Linked DNA regions of Homo sapiens: region 1 is linked to region 2. A link means that fine-mapping ties the variant in region 2 to the expression of a gene that starts in the linked region. Tissue or cell type: whole blood. Region 2 holds a variant in brackets; the other region holds the start of a gene. All regions are shown on one strand. Distances are between the middles of the regions.

Evidence for each region. PIP is the estimated chance that this variant, and not a neighbour inherited with it, causes the effect.
Region 1: it holds the start of SOBP, and the variant in region 2 is fine-mapped to the expression of SOBP in whole blood (TOPMed, PIP above 0.99).

Annotation. Positions count from the first base shown.
Region 1 is chr6:107,488,898-107,491,579 of GRCh38, reverse strand. It overlaps SOBP (sine oculis binding protein homolog), which reads right to left and starts at 1,463. Exons shown (of 7, transcript NM_018013.4): 1 at 868-1,463. The coding sequence starts at 963. RefSeq lists silencers at 1,084-1,143, 1,184-1,233.
Region 2 is chr6:107,670,786-107,673,467 of GRCh38, reverse strand. No RefSeq gene overlaps it. Among named protein-coding and RNA genes, the nearest start is that of SCML4, 150 kb to the left of the region's middle. RefSeq lists enhancers at 1-139, 2,538-2,597. The variant C/T (reference allele first, on the strand shown) is at 1,481.

The sequences.
Region 1 (2,682 bases), 180 kb after region 2:
GGCAACGAGGGGGTCCAGAGCTGAGCGGTGCTCTTGTGCAATTGCTCTAACGCGAACAGCTGGAGCGCCAGGCTGCTGCGCTCTCCACCTCTGGTGCACCGCTGGCCTGGCGGGGAGCCCAGCCTCGCCGAGAGGACTCCGGGCCGGCCTTAGCGAACAATGGACAGGCGCCCTGCAAAGGCCGCCCCTCAGACAGCTGTCCTCCAGCGGGGCTGGCCGGGGTCTGCTTGGCTGGGAAGTGAGGCAGGCAGAGGCGAGCGGGAGGCGGAGGCTGCCAGTGGTGAGGTGCGGGCGGGGGCGGGCGAGGAGAGCGGTCAGGACCGTGCCCAGACCCGCGCCTCTCGGGCCGCAGCTCGCCGGGCACTGACGGGCTCTTCACGCCGTCGCAGCTGGTTGGTTGGGGGGAAGCGGGATTGAGGAGCAGGAGGGTGAGCTGGGGGAGAGGGGTGGAATAGAGCTCTCTCCGGGGTGCCCCGGCCAGGAGGCTCCTAACTTTGGAGGGACCCTGAGGATGATTCTCAAAAAGGGGGGAGAAACTGCACCGTCCACTGGGAAAGCCTCTTCCCCTGCCCAACGCCGCTCGAGTCCCCGGTGCCCTCGCCCTGAAACGCGTCCGTGCCAACCTGGGATTCGTAAGGTTAAATAGTATGTGGTCCCCCCTCATCAAATCTGAGGTTGGCAACAATTTCGGGGATGCAGCCCTCGAGTTGGCCTCTGCTTTACACCTGGAGGAGGAGCGGAGCCGTTCTGGGCATCCTACAGAAACTGACAAGCGCGCCCCGGTACCCCCCAGATCCATACCACGGCCCACGGGGAGCGGGCGCAAGAAAGAGCTCAGTCTCCCTGGCCCCCGAGATCAAAAAATACCTTCATCTCCTCATTGATCTCCCTTTTCACTGGGTGAGCCGGCTTCCTGCTCCGTTTATTTTCGGGAGGTCTCCCTTCTTTCTCCATTTCTGCCATGTTTTTGTGTCTGGTTTCTGTGGAGATGAAATGGCTGCTGCCGCCGCCGGCGGTGGTGGTGGCGGCGGCGGCGGCGGTGGAGGTGGTGCTGATGGTGGCGAGGCTGGCGGAGGTAGCGGTGCTGGCGGGGCCGGACCGAGCCGCGAGGGGGAGGGCAGGCGCCGAGAAGCGGGGTCTCTTCTAGCGGCGGAGGACGTCAGTGGCTGTCACGGGTAAGGATAGTGCGGAGAGTCTCGGGGATGCCGCCGCCGTCGCTCCGGCTCCTGCTGCCGCCGCCGCCGCCGCCGCAGCCAACGCCGCCGCTGCTGCCGCTGCCCCTGCCGCCCTCGCTGCCGCTGCCGCTCCCGCCGCCGCCGCCGCCGGGCCGCATCCTCGGGGCCCCGTGGAGTCGTCAGCCATCTTCCGTCGCTCGGTCCGTCCGCATGGGCGCGGGGAGCAAGGGCCGGCGCGGAGAGCGGCCCCGGGCGTGCGTGCGCGGCTGTGTGTGAGCCCGGGAGAGCGCGCCAGCCCCGGCGCCCAGCGCCTCCCGCGAGCCGAGCCGGGGGCGGGCCGGGGGCCGGCGCGGGAGGAGGGGAGGGAGCGCGGCCGGGAGGGGGTCGGAGGGAGGGGAAAGGTGGGGGGGGCGAGGACAGCCCCCCGGCTCTCGAGCGGGCGTGGCTTCCACCGTCACTGGATACGCGGATGCTGCGCGGCTCCGGGGGCTGCTCGCAGCCGCCTGTTCATCCGCGGCGGGCACGGGCGGCTCGCGGCGCCCCCCGCGGCCGCCACCTCCCCGCCACACGCCAGGGGCGCCGGCGCCCGCTCGGAACCCAGCCCTGCTTCTCAGCTCCGCGAGGTGGGCTGGGTTGCGTGTGGAGTTGGTTTTTGAGCCCGTCCTAGGAGCCGCTGAGGAAAAATGAATGGGGGTGAAAGGAGAAGGTTGGGCGGCGGGAGGTCGCGAGACCTGAGGTCGCCTGGCTAGAGGGCCGCCGTCCCCCGGGGAGGGTTGACTGAGCCTGCCGCCTCGGGGGTGCAACGCTGGGGTCTCGGGGAAAGGAAACCACAGCCCGGACGAGCTTCCCCCCACTGAGCTGCCAGAATAGTTTCCCCCTCCGGGGGCCACCGCAGAGTGCGCGGAGGCTGGAGACCCCTTGGAGAGGTCCCCGCGCCCCGCCCGGCCGGTCCTCCACGCGGCGCTGCCTCGGACTGCAATGGCAATGAAGCTTTTGCCTCTCAAAGAACTACTTAGAAGTAGGACATCTCGGCCTTCAGCCCCTTCATTTCTTTTTCCCCTTGTTCCTTCTCTCTTTATCTCTCTCTCACTTATGCCCTGCTTCAAAGTAACAGCTTTACGCGTGACCCCGCCTGCACCCTTATCTGGGTGTCCTGGGTTTCGCCCAAAAGGTTGGGCTGAGTGGGAGCTTCTGGGAGCGCACGGTCCCGCGTAGGGTCCCGCTCACCCGGACCCCGAACGCCCTCGCCACGCCCCGGTGGGATCCTCCCCTCCCCGCCTGGTTGCACTTTCTCCTCCCGACTTCCCAGCTAGCGCCTGCCCTCCATGGAGCGGTGCTCGCTCCCTCTGCGCTCACAAGTCCCCTCTTTGGCCCTCTCCTGCCACGCCTGGGGCCGAGGTCTGATTGAGTCTGTCCCTGTCCCTGGGTTGAGGCATTGGGGGTGACGACTGGATGATGTTTCTGTGATACGCGCGGCTCTGAGCGCTCCCACACGTTGCAGAGGACA
Region 2 (2,682 bases):
GAGGCCGTCCCAGACCTCAGGGGCAGCATGTGACTTTCGGCCTCCCCCTCGGGCTGGGACTGTGAGGCATCTGATGCCCCGCCCCTGGGGTGAGGCCAGCATCTGTAAGAGGAGAGGGACGCATTAAGGATTAGCCTGCGGTTTTCATTTGATCCAAAAATGGATCCAAAGCTCTGGTAATCTCATCCTCTCCTTCCAAAGAAGTAAGAGGTCAGGTCCTCAAACAGGGAATACCCAAGGGGCCCCGCCCCATGTCCACCACAGTGCGCGCCTGTGGGAGGCTGCAGGAGCGATGGGTCAGGCAGCTTCCGCAAAAGCAGGCCTAAGTTCTGTGTCAGCAAATTATGTTTTTAGTAAAAAGCGTTTACTATTTAATCAGGTTTTCTCCTTCTTATTTCTCTTTCTTCTTCTCCCCTTGTTTCCTTTCCATTTTCTTGACAGTCTGATATTTAAAACTATTTTCTATAGTATTTGGAAACTGCACCCCGAAATATCTTTAGTTACCTAGTACATGGGATCTAATTCTTGTTCTTAAATTTACCCCATCCCTCAGCATGAGTTCGGCCCATGCCTTCTTACCCAAATAGCCATCGTCCTGGCCTCCTCAGTCTAGTGGCCTTGGGTATACACTGAGAAGAGTAAAGCCAGGCTAAGCACCATCCCATTGATCTTCTGCTAGTGACACGCTGGAGGTTGCTTCTATCAGCTCACAAGAGCTGATTCTAAATTTTCAGAAATTTTCTGAGAAGCTGTTAAGTATAGACATTATTAAAAGTTAAATTATACACACTTAAATAAGTTATATTAAAAGAAAAGGTAATAAATGCTAAGAACATATCGTTTCCATTATTTTACTACATTATATTATCATCTATTCTCTTGAGGTTATTTACATCTATTATATCTGCATAGTAGAAAATTATATAAGAATGTGTGGCTACACATGTCTTTCTAATTGAGTTCTGTGACATCACAGTGTTAGCTTGAAATCTGTCATGGTGAGAATATTTACACCATGGATGTAAATTGGCAAGTGCTGGGAATCAGGTCTTGATTTATTGTTTTGTTGCTTGTCTAGACTTAAAGTGATGGGGAATGTTCATAATGAAGATTAAACTCAAAAGAGTGCCACGTCTGTGTCTGTGGCTGTTACATTGTGAATAACATGAAAATTTGAGGAAATATTCTCCCAGTATTTGATTTAGAAAAGAAGTCACTCATGTCGTTGATGAATGAGTGAGGTTTCAACCTATGTCTTCGTGGTTTCACTTTTGTCTAATACATTAACATACAAGAAAATATCATTCAACATTTATATCAGAACTACACTCATTCAGCAATTGCAACCAGGTAGTTACAAGAATTCAACAAAAATCAACAAGACCATGCTGTGAGAATCTATTGGTTCTATGGAATTTATAACAAAGAGTGTTATATATTTTATCGTTATTATAAATTGCATGTTCCACATCTTTCATAA[C/T]AGCAAAATGTATAATAAACTTACGTACTTATGGATAATCACGCTTTTTCCCCTCAGAGAGCCCACAGTTAAACACGTTCCAGCACACCATTAATCCACCGAGCTCTGTGTCTGTGGAACACAACTCACACCCCACATCAAGGCAGCAAACACTTTAATCGGTTCTAATTCCAAAGTAACTGCTGAAAGAAGCATTCGGAGAGTTCATGAAGACCCGGGTTCCCATCTTGATCCTGCTACTCACGAGCTAACTGCCACTAGACAAGTCACTCCGCCTTTCTCTATACCTCACTTCCCACATGTGCAAAAATGAGGGCATTGAACAATACGAACAATCCTGTCCTTTCCAGCTCTCAAATGTCATGGCTTATGCACATGTGAGAAAGGGACGGCTCCGAAGTTGCAGGAATTCAAACCAACCTAAAGGCTTCCAAATGTCATCTCTGAGGTCATGTTCTTTACTCACTGTACCTTCAGATGACATGAAAATCAGGCAGCTAGAAGGGCGAAGAGAAGCCTTCTTTTGAGCCCTGTCCATTTGAGATGACATAGCCATGGGCATGGGAAGGGAGTGAGAAAGATGGACTAAATTTGCTCCGTAAGCAGGGCCCTGCCGTCCTCGCTTCCTCAGCTCCTGCCCCTCTTCCTCTGGACTCAGGCTTTTCTGCTCCATGGAGCCTCTTGGGCACTGAGTTCTCCCCACACAGCAGAAACGAGCCCAGCACAGAGAGCTCCCTAACCTGAGGGATGGCCTACAAGAGATTAATAGCGAACTTGTAGGAAGGAAGGATGCGAAAGCTCACACAGGTCTTTCGTAGCCTTCACAACGTTGGGCAGGAAATGGTTAATCAGGGCCGGCCCTGAGCCTGGACGGCTGCAGGCAGGGAAGGGGCAGCGATTAATTACACTACACAGGAAGTGCAGGCCTCCATCCCTCTGCCCAACGGGGAAATCCATTTTCAATTCTGACCTCAATGTGGAAGTGACTCTTCCTGCCAAAAGGAGAGGAGTACAAGCGTCCCCTCCCCCACAGCACAGCAGAACCAGAAGACAGAACACAGGCAGATGCAGCACCAGGGGTAGGCAAAGCCCAGGCAACGTGCACAGCAGGCAGCTTGATGGAGAAAGTTTTCCTTAGTGGCACCTGATGAGACAACTCTTCCTGTACATGCACTGAAACAGGGAATAGGTACAAAAAAAAA